Linked DNA regions of Homo sapiens: region 2 is linked to region 1. Evidence: fine-mapped expression QTL. A gene starts in region 1. The other region holds a variant in brackets. All regions are shown on one strand. Distances are between the middles of the regions. Region 1 holds the start of STXBP5-AS1 (STXBP5 antisense RNA 1). Region 2 overlaps STXBP5-AS1 (STXBP5 antisense RNA 1).

The links.
Region 2: its variant is fine-mapped to the expression of STXBP5-AS1 in whole blood (TOPMed, PIP above 0.99).

Annotation. Positions count from the first base shown.
Region 1 is chr6:147,200,712-147,209,722 of GRCh38, forward strand. STXBP5-AS1 (STXBP5 antisense RNA 1) reads right to left here and starts at 3,903. Exons shown (of 11, transcript NR_034115.1): 1 at 3,702-3,903. STXBP5 (syntaxin binding protein 5) reads left to right here and starts at 3,706. Exons shown (of 28, transcript NM_001127715.4): 1 at 3,706-3,971; 2 at 5,260-5,357. The coding sequence starts at 3,822. It overlaps LOC124901422 (a long non-coding RNA gene), which reads right to left and starts at 2,860. Exons shown (of 2, transcript XR_007059803.1): 1 at 2,105-2,860; 2 at 1,165-1,582. RefSeq lists silencers at 2,889-3,308, 3,339-3,388, 3,409-3,488, 3,659-3,848.
Region 2 is chr6:146,860,052-146,869,062 of GRCh38, forward strand. STXBP5-AS1 (STXBP5 antisense RNA 1) reads right to left here. Exons shown (of 11, transcript NR_034115.1): 8 at 567-692. Among named protein-coding and RNA genes, the nearest start is that of ADGB, 270 kb to the left of the region's middle. The variant G/A (reference allele first, on the strand shown) is at 4,390.

The sequences.
Region 1 (9,011 bases):
AATGTTATGAATTCTTGGTCTTTAGTCTTCTGCACCTGTCAATTTCATATGCTAACATTCTTTTAGTGTATGTGTAGTTTCGTTTTCTTAAAAAGTTGTCTTATTATTTTCATTGTGTTGGCAGAATATTTTTTAGTGCCACCTTGACTCAGCTAAATGTAAGATATATATTTATAATTTGTCAGTAGTATACTATTACATCATCACCTTATGGTCCATTCTTCAAACAGGTAAGAAATAATTTCATTCAGGAGAATGTCACCTAAAGGCAGAAGCTATTGAATTGCTTGAAATCAACATACTTACTCATTCATTCAAATAAAACAAATAAACACAACTTTTCTGAGAAATTATGATGGGTAAAATTCTCTGTTTTGTGCTCAATTTAAAAATGAATAATATAGATTATTTAGTTTAATGTATTTAATTCTAAACTTAAAATGTTTAATTCCAAATAAAATTCTCAAAATTTCAGTTCTAATTTGAAAAAACAAATTGATTAATTCTAACTGACTTATAAGAATTACTGTGAGTTTGAGGATCGATTATTTTACCTTTGCTATAATAAAGGTCGTTATTTTGGGCCATTGTTGGTTTTGGCCATTTGGATTTTCGGATAAGTCCCCGTGTCTCTGAGCACAGAGGATGGACTGCAAGTTCACAAAGGTAGGCTATATCCATCTTAAATTCCAGGTATTCACTAAGAACTGAAATTTTGAGAATGTCAGAATGAGTTCATAACCTGATGGAAAAGATAGAGTATAGAAATAAAAACAAACATTCTAGAGTCAGAAGTAGGAAACTGGCTTAAATTGGTGACTCTTTGAAGTCCCCTTTACCTCAAGGACCCTGATAGAATAGGAAACTGACATTTTTGAGTGTCTACAGAGTACTAAGCAATGCAGTACAAACTTTTCATATTCTTTCTTTTCCCCCTCCAGTTCATGCTCATAAATTTCTAAGAAGGTGGTATTAATCTCATTTTAAACCTGAGGAATCTGATCCCTAGAAAAATTTAAAATTTGCCCAAGATTACACATATTACCATGGCCTGGACTGAAGTTCATGGCTGGCTGACAACAAAGCCTATATTTTCCCACTACACCACAAAGCCTCTCAACAAGAAGTTGTCTTTTTTTTCTAGAAAGTTTTATAATCCAATGATGAAAAATTATCCAATAGATTTATTTTAGACCTAGGTAAGTAAAAAGGCAGATCATACAATTCTATGGGGTTGTGATCTGTCTGTTTTGCAATTTCCCCCTGTGGAATCACATGTACTTTTAAAAAGCTCTCAAGGTAATTCTGAGGCTCTCTTCCCCATTGTCTTCCAATGGTCTTTGCCTCCTGTTCGCTAGGTCTGCTCCTCCTTATCCGGCATGATCTATGGTGGGCGTCACCATGTCCAAGCCTTCCTGGCCAGTTAAGTGGCCCTCTGCCGTCCTCCTTCATTATTCCATCATTGGACTCATCACATCGTTTTACAATTACTATTTATGTTAAAAGTCGTCTCCGTTAGACCGTAGTGAGCTTGCTGAAAGCAAGGATTGCATTTTCGTGTCTTTAGTACCTAGCACACCGCCTGACAACAAAATGTTAGAGAACTAAATTAATAAAAAATTCAGAGCCACTTGGAAATAGTTTAGGAATGTCCTCACATTTGTTTTCTTGGTCGTTGCACCCAGCGAATCAACTAATTCAATAAATATTAAACGACAAATCAAAATTTTGTAGGTTCCAAATGCAAGACATCGTCCTGGGATGCGGAAGCTGCAGAGTGGACTACATTTCCCGAAATCCCTGGGCCCAGTCGTAGTTGGTTCGCTGACTGCTTTTGAATGCTGGTTAACTCAACCAATAGGGTGACGAGAATTTCCCTAAAGGAGAGGGAGCCGACCTCACAAAGAAGAGGGCGGGTGCTTCTGACAGGTTTGGAACTTAAAAAAACCCTTTGTGGCGGTTCCGTGGCTTTTCCGCAGACCAGAGCGCGCGAGGAGTCATTCGCTAGGAACCTGTCCCCCTCTCCCCGAATTAGGATTAGTCTTCCTGCACTTCCTTCCTTCCTTACGTCTTTCCTATTTCCACATCCTTCCTAATCAAGTACCTGTGCTTCCGTCCACCTGTCCTGTTGAACGCACTCTCCGGGGGGTTTCCCCGGCACAATCTCTTGTCTGTCTTTTCCAACTTGAGCCAGGCATTTGTCTCCAAGCATTCACGCGAGATGGGCAGTGCGGCCTCGGAAAGATCTGAGCAAAAACTTCATCCTATCCCCCTTTCCCCGTTCTAGAGTGAAGCTCCCAGGGCATTACTGAGTGGCTCATCAGCGTCAGGGCAGATTGAAGGTTCTGAAAAATAGTGGCAGCGCGGCGTTTCCTGCCACCCGCGCTCCTCCCCGGCGAGGGGCTGGGTGCGGGGTAGTGTCATCGGCCCGGGCTGACACCGGCCCTGGAACCGTTCCCCGCTGGCAGCCTCTTCCATCCCAGCAGCTAACTGCTAAGACCAGACACGTTCCACCAACAGTAACAGCTGTAGGAAAGAACCCGTTTTTTCCCGTCTAGGTTTCTCTCCTTTTCCTAGTACCTAAGTCCATCATCCTCCTGCCACTGACATATCGTTGTCTAGACGCTCTTTTTCAAAACTCAAATCCAATCAAACAAAAACAACGCCCGTCAATAAAGCAAGAAAAATAATACTGCAGCCAGCGGCCAGGAGCGTGCACCCCATTAACGGCGAGAAAGCATCAACCCCTGCTGTAATGACTGAATTGGAAAGAAAGGTTTCCTGCTGCTTGTTAGTCGTCAACATTTTTACTATGCCAGCTGCAAGAGAAGCAGCTGCATACTCTGGCAACTCGACTGGGGTGGGAGAAATTTAGCCAGCGTCTGGGATTTTCGCAGAAGATAATTTAAGCCCCAGCTTCGCTCGGGCTGGGGGGCTGGGGGCCTGCTGGGCCAGGGTGGGGGAACCGGGCTGCGGCGCGCATGCGCAGGTACCGCAGCCCGGCTCCTGGGAGGCCCTGCTGCCGCCACCGCCGCGGCCCGCGCTGTAACCGCGGCTGCCGCTGCTGCTCCGGGCGGGCGTTGGTGCCGTGTGCCGAGGCGCCCTGTCAGGCGATGGGGAGCGGCTGGGCGGGGAGAGCCGACGGCCGCGGCGGCGCCTGAGGAACGCAGCCGGGCTCGGGAGCGGCGAGGGCGGGCCGGTCCAGCGGCGGAGGAGCGAGGCGGGGCGAGGCAGGCGGCGCGGGGACCCACACCAGGCGCCTTGTGTGCGAGGCCGAGCGGCGGCCGCGGACAGAGAGCCGGCGACCCCCGGCAGGAGGAGAAGGAGCCGGAGGACGCGCCGAGGGACTGCGGGGCCGGGGCGGGCGAGCAGCGGCGCGGCCGCGGGCCATGGACGCAGCGGCGACGGTGGCGGCGCCGGGGGCGAGCCGGGGCGGCGGCGCGGCGCAGAGTCCGCCCGCGGCCAGGTGAGGCTGGGCTGAGCGGGCTCGGGCGCCGCCGCCACTGCTGCTGCTGCTGCTGCCGGGCCGCGGAGCGAGGCGGCGGCGGCGGCGGCTGAATCGGCACCACAGCAGCCGCGCCAAGCAGCGGCGGCCTCGGAGGAAGAGGGGTCGCCGCCCAGGTTTCTTGCGGCCGCCGCTCTTGTCGTCGCAGTATTTCCTGTTCGGATTATCTTTTGCTTCCCCCCAGCTGCCTCCTTACCCTCACACTCCCACTCCTCCGTTTCCGCGGTCGAAGCTGCCTTCGGCCCCGGGTGGTCTCCCCCGCCCGGGGACCCCCTGTGCCTCCCCTCCCGGGCTGCGGGGGAGCCCCTCCGAGACCATGAGGAAATTCAACATCAGGAAGGTGCTGGACGGCCTGACCGCCGGCTCGTCCTCGGCGTCGCAGCAGCAACAGCAGCAGCATCCGCCTGGGAACCGGGAGCCGGAGATCCAGGAAACGCTCCAGTCCGAGCACTTTCAGCTCTGCAAGGTGAACGGAGCGCGCAGCCCCGCGACACCGTCATTGAAAAATTGGGGTTGTTTTAAGGGGGCTACTCGGGCTTTACATGGGAATGCAAGGGAAGAGAACGCCAATAATAATAATAATAACTCTAATAAAAGGCTCGCTCCTCCCTTGGCAAACGTTTCTTCGGTGGGTTGTTTTGGAGATTGATACCTTACTCCTTTTCATTGATTTTTCTCTCTCCCCTTTGCACATGCAGCAATCAGTTCAAGGTTGCTTCAAACTATTATCCGACCTTTAATCGTATTCTGACACTGCCAGTAATAACCTGGAAGCTTTTATATTCAAGCGTTTTAATATGATTCACCAACTTCGAAGTTTCCTTTGGAAACGGTGTCTAATGAATGTTGTTTATCAAAAAGCCAAACCTGTTCTACCACACCTTTGCTCATCACTTTTCCCTTAAAATGTGGTGTAAGTGGCTTACGATATGAAATCACAGGGTTCTTTTTATCATTATGTTTGTTAAAAAGTACTGAGATTTTTGCCTGTTAATGGCACGATAATTGCCATAGCGTTCTGTAATTCAGAAAGAATGATGCAGCGAATTAAGTCACCAGCTGCTTAATGAGAAACACAAACTTGCCTCGGTTTTAATACCTGCCTTTCTCATAAATAGCCATGTATTTGTATGTCAGAGTTAATTAAAAGTGTGCATATATATATATATATATATATATATAGGTCTAATGCCCTAAAATGATTATGGCCTTAATAGTAAATTGCAAAAATGTATGTTGTACTCATCTTCATTCTGTTACAAGTGTAAAATGTTGGGATAGAGGTTTGATTATTGCTCTACTGAATGCTTGACTAAAGTAATTATATGACAGCTTTTCCTTAGAAGTACTTGCGTTAGCATCCAAATAAAGTAATGATGAAATGAATACTGCCAAAATAAAGTATGAATTGCATTTAATGGGTTTACAGAATTTTGGACCATTGCAAACTTTAGTCATCTGGTGTCGGATGTAGTAGTATAGAATATTAATAAAAGATTTTCTTCTATGGAATACCAGTATTATGGAAAAGCGAAATTAAAGTATATCACTGGACTAGATTTTTGTTTGTTTCAGGTTCTATGTGAATAACTTTGTTAATGTAGGTTTCACTTATTTTTTCAAAAGCAGTAAGTGCATGTGTATGTGTTTTGCATCAGTGGTAGTGGTTCTAAATTCTAACGCCTCTATTGACTTTCTATTTTAAAATTTCGCTTGCTGCCTTGGTTGCTGTGATGTCACTTGCCCATCCCTAGACTGTTCGCCATGGATTTCCCTATCAACCCTCAGCCCTGGCCTTTGATCCTGTACAGAAGATCCTGGCAGTGGGAACTCAGACTGGTGCTTTAAGGCTGTATCCTTTCTTTAATTTTATTTTTTAACTTCTACTTTGTTCTCCCCAGTCCTTCTGTGTTGCTGATTAGTTCCAAAGAAAGTTTTTATTTTCCTGTTGGTGTGATTAGATATATACTATGAGAAATCATGTGTTGGCTTTTCCCTTGATTATAATTCAGCTTATATACTGCTGTGATGTTTCTCAGCTCCTAGTTTATAGTAGCTAAACATATATCCAAATAGAGGTCTAAAGTTTTTTTATGATAACTATTTTATTTGTAAGGAGATAGAAGTTTCTAAGGAAAAATATATCTGCTTCTATACTATTGGTGTGATGAATGAGGTATGTTAAGGATGAGGTTTAAAGACAATTACTTTTAAAAATATTATGCATGGTAGATATTGAACTTATGACCTATTCTAATAAATTAGAGATTGGATTTCAATCTGAATTTGGTTGTTTTTGGCATGTCCGTGTAGAAAAACAATTAGCAGAAGTGTAGCAAATTAATTTTCTATGAATAGTTATAAATGGTTAATATTTCTACCAGTTTTTAGAGCGTTTTCTTGAAAAATGCATGGGGATAAATTTTTTCTCTTGATATACTTTTTCTCTCATAGTCTACATTTGTTATGTATTTGTAAAAACTGTTAGGTTACTATACATTAAACTAGTAGTATAGAATTACTTTTCCTGGTTGTGTATGAACTATATTAGTTTTATCAAGCATTTTTTTAAATACTTCAAAAGATTTTTTTCAAGATAATTTTTTAGTGAGAACAGTACAGACGACTCACTTTCTATTTTTATGTTGAAATGTGTTTTCTTTTACTGTGACTTTGAAACATACTTAACCTAAATATATTCTTAAACTTAAGATTTGGATTCATCTATCTGTGGGATATCTACCTCCTGCATATTAATGAGTAATGTGTTGGTGATAAATAGAAAAAAAAAATCACTAGATGATTTCAGTAGACATTACTATTGTCAAAAAAAAGAAAAGAAATATACGATAGGGGAGGAGCTTTACCCCTTTATATTTTAGATTTTTCTGGTTCCTGAGAAGGAGTGAGGGAACCTGCATTTGAGTTAAACATGTGCCAGGCATTTTACTTACATTTTAAAGTCATTATTTCAAAGAAGTACTATGTGATACATACAAATATATATATATGTATAGATAGATAGATAGATAATGCCTCAAGTTTTATTTGTCACTTAATGTGCTATCTTCAAAATGCTAATAGAAGTTTTAGGATGGACTATTGAACTGTGTTACTAAGTGAAGTCTACTATACATAGTAAATACTACGCAGTCATACCTTTATAAACGACAAAATCTGACCAGGCTAGATCTGAATCTGTTAATTTCTGAGACGGTGTGTCTGAAGTGCTCTTGCCCAAATATCTAGATAGTTATGACCAGAATGTTTTTTGGCTTCAATTGTTAGATATTTTTATTCCTGAACTCAGTGATCAAGACCATCTAGTTTAGGGTTGTGTGAAGACGGGAATGAAGTTATTTTGTCAGTGTGGGCCCTGAGTGTTCAGCAAAACTCTGTAGTGACGAGACTAGTACAGCGTTGGATCTAGATGCATTCTTTGGAACTGAAAGCAGTTTCTTTTTTTTCCCAACAAGATAATTTCATAACTGGACTAGAAGAAGGAAAGTAAAGTTGAATTAAATCAGCTATTTTTCCCTTATTTTGCTTTTCTGTAAAATGAGTTTAGGTTTTATTGTTTTCCCAGTGTGGTCTCGACATTCTTTTGGTAAATAACCTCTTTTCCTTGTAACATCCAATCTGGCCCTTTTATAATTTAGTATAATTATAAGTGAGTACCACCAGCAAGGCTGATTTTATAAAACCAGATTCTTAGACAACACTTTTACCCTAATGCATTTGTGTAATTAGCAAGTTGGCACAAAAGGTGTAAAGCGTTAGGCCTAGTGTGAATTGCCAATTAAAATCAAGGATCAGGTGGCCAAAATTGTCACTTGTATATAACTTTTGGTGTACTTTCTATAGTTAAATATTATGTGAATAAAAGTGAACCTGTAATTATAGTTTGCAATTATACTCTAAAGTTTTTTTTTAGAACCTCCTTACTAAGAATGAAGTATGGAAAACTGTTTACTAAATTACCTTCTACTTTGCCTTTTTATGAGATTTCTATGGACATTCCAGAGTGCTAAATTGGCTTGCTTGCCAGTAATACCACCTAGTCATTCCTTCTGTTGGGTTTAAGTAGCAGATGAGCTTATGAGCTTTATTTATTATGGTTCTGATTTATAGAAAATGACTAAGCCCTTTTTATTTTATCTCATTTTCCATATATGTGCTTTCAGGTATATGTTAGTGTCTCTTTCTTTGTTATTTTTGAAACTGGACACCTAAATTCCGAATCTCCACATTTGGTTAACGTGCAGATTTACTACAAGTGTGTATATTTTGACTTGGATCTTTTGTATATTTTCCTATTGTAATTGGTTTCTTTTGATCCTTTATTCTCTTCTTGTATTAGACTCTTGTAGTCTGTAACACAGTTATCCTAAAAGATATCATTAGAGCAGAAAATAGACTTCTAGATAAAGTATTTTCCTTGCAGATTGAAAAGTAGGCGATGTTTTCAGAAGTAAGATTAGGCTATTACAATTCCAAATGTGTATGTAATTTGACTGATGAATATCTTCCTAAATGTTAGAAGACTTTACTAAATTGATTTATCTACTCTGGGTTAAAACCAAAAAATCAAAGAAGAAAGATATATCTGATAGCTAATGTTTGTAGACAAGGATTAGTGAAAAATCTTAATCCTTTAATAATACATAACAAATTATGAGGCAAAATAAATTAAATGTATTTACTACATTAATGTATAGCAAATGACATATGATATAAATATGCTGAATGCTAAACCTTCTTGGCTTCTGGAGAGAATATGAGATTGAAGAATGAAGGTATTTTTAATAATGTTACTGTCTTTATCTAGACTTCTGATTTACTACTAAAATTTCAAATTGCTTCATACTTTAATCATGGGTTACCCTGATCTTATTTTTAAAGTAAATTTTTTTTCTAAACACAATGAGGTCATTATATATATGAATATTTCAAGGACTGAGCAGAAAAATGGAATTTCAGGTTTACTGAACTTGTGTAAAAATTTGAGGTTTAAAAATGAATTGTCAAATTATTATCGAAGAACCTCATTCATTGTCTTCTTGACTGGTGGAAAATACAGTGAAATAGACAATCTCTGTTTTGATGAGGCATGGATTGTCTTTTAATGCAGAGTAATGTTGCTGGAGACAGGCTTACAAAGTGATTTTTTTACCTTACAGTTGATTTAACAAGCACTTGAGTGTCAGACAACATTAGATTATAAATTGTGGCCTGAATTCTGGTTCTTCGCTTTCCACTAAATAATTACATGTCCTTGAATTAGTTTTTTTTTTCCTTACTATAAAAATGAAGGTGCAGTATTAAATGATTTCTTCAAGGAAGAATTTTATGATTTCAAGTAGCTATGTATTCTAGAGGAGTAATACAAAAGAAATGAAAATGTGATCCTTCCTTCAAAAAGTTTCCAGTTCTAACCAAAGGACTGGAACTAAATAAGCAGTTGAAATTTGAGAATTATTTGGGGCTCTACTGACATTACACAAAG
Region 2 (9,011 bases), 340 kb before region 1:
TTAGAAGATAGCTGTGCTTTGGGGAAGCAAGTCAATTGACTGAAAAACAATTTGCCAAATGTCCAATTTGTGAGATTGTAAGGATGTTTAGAAGATTTTCTTTTCCTCTTCACCCTATACTTTCCCTGTCCCTGTCTGTGAAGTTGGCCCAGACTATTTTGTTACAGAGGCAGGGTCATGTTCAGAAGCAGGCGCAGGAATTAAACTAAAACATAAGCAAAAACCCTCAATGAGTCAGTAAATTGGTCATTCATCAAGTTAATTTTAACAAATTGGCTTTCAACAAATTGGCCTGGAGCCCTACTTTGGCACCTTCTTCTGGAAATGTCTTCTTTTCCTCTTTTAGTCCTTTTCCGTTCAATGTTGTACTTCACCTAGACCTTGAGATTATGCCATTCACAATTATAATCTCAACATTCATCACTTGCCTTGGGAGGTACAGACTTAACTGTTGGCTGGCTAAACGTTTATGTGGAATCTTAGAGGACTTGTAACACTATTTAATGAAACACTCAAAACATTCAAAGTCTAAAGGGGGATGGTGATTTGGAAATAACTTCTCTTACCTATTCCTACCTGCCCTCTGGCTTCATTCATGGTCATAGGGCCTCAGTTTTTGGACAGAGAGCACCACCATTTTTGGCCATGCATTCTCTTTTTCCACAGCCCGTTTATATCCATCTGGTCACCACCTGCCAATGAAAAGTAAATAACAATGACTGCTCCCTCCACTGGCTTCTGTCCCTGGGGTGAATGGCCAGGAGTTTGAGCCACTGCTGGACAAGAGCCGTTGATTGCTTGAAGGCTGGCAAGGACAGCAGAGCCCTCATAGTGAACTGGCCTCTGCAGGAGAGAAAAAGGGATAAGCAGACATGCTGCACTGAGATTAGCTTCCTGCCAATTTCTCCTGAATTTTCCTAAAATAAAAGTGCATTTTCTTCCCAGCCTGATTACATTTCAAAAGCCCTCTTCTACTAGCACAGCCTTGGTAGATGCTGGACTCTAGAGAGGATTAAAGGTGGTGGGAATGGTAAGGATGGTGAATCCGGGATTAAAATTGCCCTGCCACACATTGGGTCAGAGCAAATATTTGTGAAGCTTGAGTTATTTGCAGTGCATCATTATGGTTTCTGTATGGGAAATGCCAAGTTATACTTCGATGTGCAGGGAGATAAAAATATATTTACCAACACAGGGTGTTATGTGTTAAATGGTAAGGTGCCAGAATGCTCATAAACTTGACCAGTACAAGGATGTTGTCAGAGGTGGTGTGGGAAGCAAAATTGTGGATCAGGTGCTGAAATGATTAAAGAAGATGGAAGACTGAGCTGACGACAGTATGCATTAATTAATGGAAAGGTATGGCCTGAAATGTAAAAGAGGAGATGTAGTTGAGTAAGAAGTGCAGCATCCTTTCATCTATCACACTGGAAATCCAGCAAAATCTGAGACCAAGTGACTATTTAAAGTCAACTATATAGAACTCCAGAGCTGGGGATGATTTATCTGCAGGAAGAAACCAGCTTTGCTCTGGGCTAAGAGTGAAAGCATATTAAATATGTAGCCTTTTAAAGAATCATATTTCTGTATCATCTATACATATATATATATACACACACACACACACTATTTCATATATATAATGGATTAAAGCAGATCATAACATAATAAATATCAAATTATTCATGTTCCTCTTTTGAGCCTCATTCTGCAGAAGGAACACTTTCACGCTTTAAAAAAGACAGGATCACCTCTGATCTATGAACCATTTTATTTCAAATACATCTTACTGTTACAATTTGGCCTACTGCTTGGTGGGGAAAGGCCTTTCCACGTTTCACTCACTGCAGAGCAATCCAGCTTTCCTGTGATATTCATCTGATGTTTATATCCATCTTTTGAAATATAGGGGCTATTAGATCAGAAATATTCCATGAAGAAGGGAGCAAAGATTCATGTCACTGACAACTGGAGAAGAAACAGAGAAAGGGTAATAATATCGTGGGACAGAATGGAGTCCCTTCCAGATCTTTGGAGGGCTAGCACCATATCCTTCCCAATCATTTATTGCAAGGCTAACTAAGGTCCTGAAGAGTGGGCCCCTTCAGTCTGAGGCCAAGAGGCCGCTGACCTACCCTGATATAGACCAAACTGTGCTTAGTTTCCCTCTGGAAGCACCAGAATAGCTGCACTGGTTGTACTGTGTCATTTCAGAATGCTGACCTCAACCCTTAGCCCATTTGTTTGCTGACACAATAGTTCTTTTTTTTTTTTTTTTTTTTTTTTTTGAGAAAAATAAATCTTTGTACTGCAGTTAGAAATAAAGCTTAAAGAAAAATCACTGGGATTGGTGACATGTTGCTTTAAGTTAAAAAATGGCTCTGCAAGGTGGGTATCCAAACCTTTGCAGCTGTTCTCCATGCAAGAAGAACAACTCAAGAGCAGCATGTCATGGGCAGCTCCCAGGAAAGGAGGAGAGAGGCTGGAGGCACCAAACCCATCCAAGCACTCAGTACTTGCAAAGGCGCTGGTCTCCTTTACTATCCAAACACCTTACACTTTCTAGGAATTCAATACACACGGATTAAAGCCCAACTTACTAAAACTAGTTATTTAGCATTAATAATTTGAATCTTTAAGTTTTAGCTGGTGAAGGACTATATAAGTTTTTATTTGAAAATCAAGCGTGTTTTTCTTTCTTTCTTTCAAATCAGGTACTCATGATGTGTGACAAATGGCATGCCTCCTGCAAGAGTTATGAGTTATGTGCCTAAACAGGAAGGATCATCTCATTGCAGAATTAGGGCATCATCCAGTGGGAAGGGAGTTTCAAGGTCATTTAGTCCAGCCTCCGAGTGATACAGAAATTCTCTTTGCAGCATCCCTATCACGTGGCCATCAAACTTCTACTAGTGTATTCATCCACACCTGGTCTGTCTAAAACCTTGAGAACAGCCCCTTGTATAGTTCAATAGCCCCAGCTGAAGGAAAAGTTTTTGTTATTTTCAGTAAACATATTCTGTTGTGTAACTTTGGTTGATCGGTTCCCCTTTAGCGACCCAGAAAACACTGAGCTCCCTCTGACACCCATGCCCTTTGACTGAAAGTCAGCCATAAAATAGAGCACCAGAGTAACTTTCCAGAGTCCCAGATTTGCCCCTTCGCTCCACTGCAAATCAAATGTGTGACCTGTGTTTCAATTCAATTAGCCTTTTCCTAAGGGTTTCACTGTTTCTGTTCCTGTGAGTTTCTTTTTTAAAGATCTGTATTTGTATATTTCAAGTGGAATTTTTTTTTTTTTTAGCAAACCACAACATTTTATTTTAAATTGAGAGATATGGTTTGATTTTTATTTTTATTGTGGAAAATTTCAAACATACAAGAGTAGATATAATATAGTAATGAATGCCTTAGTATTTGTCACCCAGGTGTAAATATATCAAATTGTGGTCAGTCTTTTTTTTTTTGAGACGGAGTCTCGCTCTGTTGCCCAGGCTGGAGTGCTGGAGTGCAGTGGCGCCATCTCGGCTCACTGCAAGCTCCGCCACCTGGGTTCACGCCATTCTCCTGCCTCAGCCTCCCGAGTAGCTGGGACTACAGGCGCCCGCCACTACGCCTGGCTAATTTTTTCTATTTTTCAGTAGAGACGGGGTTTCACGGTGTTAGCCAGGATGGTCTCGATCTCCGGACCTCGTGATCCGGCCGCCTTGGCCTCCCAGAGTGCTGGGATTACAGGCGTGAGCCACTGCAGCCGGCCAGTCAATCTTATTTCGTCATTACCCTCACCCCTGCTTTCTCCTCCCTGGATTGTTTTGAAGCAAATCCCACATACCATACAATGTCAGCCGTACCTTCTCATATGAACCTGGGAGCAAATTCTCCAAATGACAAAATCAATGGAAGACATTTGGGGGGCCTTGCCCTTATAGTGGGTGCTGGAGTTACAAAGGTGAATACAATTGTGCCACGTTTCGGTCTTTTTGGAAAACACTACCCCTCATGTGTCTGTAAAAATTGACTCTTCTTTTTGTGCTAACACTTCCTTTTTTGGCCAAAATCTTTCTAAAAATAGACAGCAAGCCCCCTCCTGCTGCCTGTTTCTTAAACTTTCCTCTCATGAAGGTGAGCTAGGATTGTACAATTACAATGCTTTGAGAATTTTGTTCCTTTTGAGCTGTCTTTACTTTTCAAAGCCTCTAGTCATGCTATTGGACCTATCTTTTCCTCTAATAATTAAAAAAGTCTCTATATTGTGTTATTCTCTGTCTTTTCATCCCAGTTTACTATGATTAACGTGGTTACCATCTCCCCAGGTTCTTCCCGTTCATTTACCTTCACCATTTCATTTCACCTTGCATTTCTTCCCAGTTGCTCAGACTTCACTTCACA[G/A]TAGTAATTTTCTTTTTCTTTTTTTGTACCTTCTGAAAGGGCAGTCTAATGACAAAGTCAGTCGATAATTGCTCAGAAGATCTGTATTCACCAGAAAGAGTCTTTCTGCTGATATTCAGAAGATCAAATTTTAAGCTCAGCATGAACCAAGATCCAGTTACACTGCACACACACAAACGGAAAAACCACCATAGTATGTATGAGGGAAAGATCAGACCATACAATCATTATGTGATAATGTATTAATAATAGATGGTATAATGAACCAAAAATTAGCTTGGCAACACTCCCAGGTACTTTTCATAAAATAATTTCCATAACCTGCTTTGCCTATGAAGAAGGGAACACATTATCCCACAATTACTTGGGGGTGGAATGATTAGCGTGGGTCCAGGACGCGGCCCGGGGACTCTGTGGTTGGCCTTACACCTTTCCAGACAACGTCCTTGGCCTCTCCCCTACTACAGCATGTGTAGCTGTGTGTGGGATGGAGGCTAAAAGCCTGGTTATGCTCCACAGAATGAATTCTTATGTCCCTGAGCTCTTCTCAGAAAACATGCAGGGAGTCTCTGCCAGCTGCAGAAGTTCAGCTCCTAGGAAGAGGGGATGAATTTCTGTGTTTTATTTCAATGGTGTAGCATGAGTGTGCAGAGCCAACAGTATGATAACTGGTGGTCCTCACGTATGTCTTGGCTACATCATCCTGTGACATGGTCCTGAGGCTGACCAGGGGATGGAGCTGACCGTCAGAGCCCCAAATTTAGCATGAGGCATAGCCAATATATGGGACAAAGGTCAAAATTTATGTCACAAAAGGTAACCTGGGACTTGCCTGTCACTGCAGATCCTGCACTCTACAACATAGCAGTGTTTAGTGCCTGTTTAGGTTGTAAGGGTCATCAGGTCTTCTAAGGAGTCACAGCATATATAGCTATATTTTCTGAATATAAATCTATGTGTTAAACGAAATGACACAGGACAGGTCATGGAGAGCATAGAAGAACTGTGTTTGGAGACTCATAAGTGCTCTGGTCTGGGCATCAGAAACTTGATACAGTTTGCATCACATCCAGGAGGAAGGATCATTCAGGCATTTGGATTTCGTTGCATTGCTGACATCTGTCAGAAACCCAGCTAACAGCCATTGGCATGAACAGCACAGTTAAAATGAAATGGATCTATTCCATGAGAAGCTCAAAACTGTAGCTGGTTTACAAAGTGTTTTTGTCTAGCCACATGCATCATCAATTTAATATTTCAATGTTTCAAGTTTATTTCCATGAATGAGATTTCATTTACCCCCACACACTCACTTAACCTATTGAGTGGTTCTAAGTTATTAACAAATACAGTCGCCAAAAAGGTGATTATTTTAGAAAGAACAGAGAAAACCTATCAGTTACATCTTTATTTATCTTAGACTTTTAGGCAGCGCCTCTAGAAAGTGCTGAGCAGAAGCTTAATATGGGAGTGAAGAAAACCAACTTGTTTATCTACCTCTAAGTCACAAAGGCTGTTCTGCACACAGCTATGAACTTCTGGGAATAGAAAAGCCACTTAGCAAGTTAGCAGGTGAGGTCAGAGTAGACGCATATTCTCTGGGCTCATAAATTAGCCAAGGAAGAGACGACACCCTAAATCATCTTTATGGGGCCTAAACTGTAGAGTATCAAAAGCAAATGCATATTTAGATGTAACATATTTGCCAAAATAATTGGACTTTTATTACATTTCCCCTGTGACCTTAATGACCTTGCATATATTTATCTTCCAACTAGACAACATATTTGTGGATACGTGTTACTCACACATAGGTTTCTGTTAACACTCAAACTGAACCACTCAAAAGGGGTGTCATTTGTGAAGTCCAGGGAAAATCATCATAAAGGCAGCTCTTAACACCTAGGTCACAGGGAGGCTTATTTGCCTAAAAGAAATGCTCATGTTACAAAGGGGTCCTTTCTGCCATTTTTGTTTGAAAACAGACTCCTCTAAAATATGCCGATATCTGTAGAAAAGGAGCAAGAAGAGTTCCCCTCCAGAGGCTGCTCCCTGGAGAGTCACAGAGATCCTCGCATTTCTCCCATAGTATTCTTCCCAGGCTGCCCATTTCAGCGCAGCATTGACCAACACGTTTCAAGTCCATAAGCACTTCCAAATGTTGAATTAGAGAATCTCATAATATATCCACAGATTAATCGAACTAATGATATTCATAGGTAGCCAGGATGGGTCACGTTTTTCAGCTTGTAGTTAAATAAAATCACATCTCTTTCTCTTGTATGCCTCCCCTCTCAATTAATTTTTCAGTTCCCACAGTTTGGTTTTTAGAAAAATATCCAGTATAACCTATTCAGGTTCCCTCCTACTGCCTTGTCCAAGAACACTATGGACTTATTCATTCCAAAGGGTTCATTCTGTACAAGAACACTAGGCAGCCGGTTGAAGAGAGAAAAAACTGGAAAGTCTGGTCAGTGTACTAGTTACTGATGCTGACACCAGGCTCTACTGCTAGAAACTGGATCTGCAGAATCTGAACCAGCCCTCCCTGGCTAACACTCAAAGGCTTTTGGTTGCACCAAAGTCACCCGGGCAATTGACCACATTCCTTCTTGTAGGTTTCTCTTTGGAAGACTTGGTTTCCATTCTTGCCAACGGATCTTTAAGTCATCCAGATACAAACTATCCTAACTTCAAACACAAAGTTCAGTCCTCGGTTCCTTGCTTCCCTGAAGCCCCAAGGATTCCACACCATTTATTTATTTAATTAATTAATTAATTTATTTATTTATTTATTTATTTTTTAGGGCACAGAGAGGGAAGCCTTCAAGTAGCAGAAGGCCCTGGTCTATTCTTTTCCCAGAACAGTTGAGTGTCTCTTCAACCTACCTAGGTATCACCAAGCTTTGGGTCACCCTATGCAGAATCAAGAATCCCCACTCCAAGAAACCTCATCATAGAAGACAGCACACTTGGAAAGGATCCTACTCCACTCAATGCCCAGTGACACCTGCCATTCTTTTGCTTTGCACAGATTTCTTAAAGTGAAGGGTGGAAATATCTCTGGATCATGTCTTTGCTCTAGTCTCTGTTATTGTGTTGTAATCTGAGAAAAATCATTTATTTTCTCCATTAAGAGTAGACTAGGAATTTTCTAACTTACCAGTTTAGTAGATCAGAAGTTTTTAAAGCTTTTCTTTAGCCTCAGAATCCTTTTTATTCCCTACATTTTACAAGTATGAACTTTTACTATCATATTCTCAGGTGTTCCTGAGCCATAATCTTACTTTCTGAAAGCAAATTTTATTTATTTTTTAAATGTTATGTTAGGTTCAGGGGTGCATGTGCAGGTTTGTTATATAGGTAAACTTGTGTCACAGGCGTTTGTTGCACAGATTATTTTTTCACCCAGATACTAAACCCAGTACCCAACAGTTATTTTTTTCTGCTCCTCTCCCTCCGCCCATCCCTCACCCTCAAGTAGGTCCCAGTGTCTGTTGTTCCCTTCTTTGTGTCCCTGTGAGTTCTCACCATTTAGCTCCCACTTATAAATGAGAACATGCAATATTTGGTTTTCTGTTCCTGCATTAGTTTGCTAAGGATGATGGCCTTCAGCTCCATCCATGCTCCTGTAAAGGACGTGATCTCATTCTTCCTGAAGCCAAATTTTAACATATGACACAGAACCCCCAATTTTTCTTAGGTAGAGAACTTAATCTAGTCAATCCCATTTAAACCTAATAAATTTTGTTGATGTCTCTATCATGCTGGGTTGAAAAATCAAGCACACTGAAGGCTATTTGCCATTTTCTACTTCCTCACTGAGAGAGGAATTTTATAAAATTAGAGGCAGTATCTCAGAGGAGAGGTAGGACGCTTTATGATTTTATATTTGTATCCCTATTCTAGCAAATGTTCTGGAGTTCGTTTATAGAACCAGCTTCCCCTCTGCACACAGAGGGTCGTGCTCAACCCACCCTTCCAGTTCCCATCTCATCTGTTGCGACTTTGAATGCTTCTTCTAGAAGACCAATTGCCGAGGCCTGTAGGCTCCACTGGCCCAAGGGTAAAGAGACATGGGCCTGCCCCATTCACTCTCTGTATTGCTTTGGCCATTCATCTAATCTCTTTGAGTTTTGGTTTCCTCGCTAGTAAAATAAAGAAATAAGATGGTCTCAAATCTTCTCCCACTTTTAGAATTATACATCTGATGAATTATGAACACTCAGATTCTTGGATTCTTCCAAGTCCTTTAAAGCAAACCCTATTACTCCTTGCAAGTAAATATTAGACAACCTCAACCCCTATCAATTCTGCAATTTACATGCAGTTCAAGTAGCTGAAGCATACTGGGCTTGCTGCCACTTACTCTAACCTGTTACAGTGATCTTTGGACATAAAAGTTTTGTCTGTTTCATTCTAAAATCAACAACATGAGGTATTGCAGAGCCACAGGGTAAGAACCTGGATATGAGAATGGAACAGCACTGGAAGTCAGCCAAGCACGATTTGTATACTAATTCCAGCTCTGAAATGGACTAAACACCCCGGTTTCATCACTCACAACTCCTGTGCCTCATTCTGATCACCTGCAAAGTGGACATAACAATGCGCTCACTACC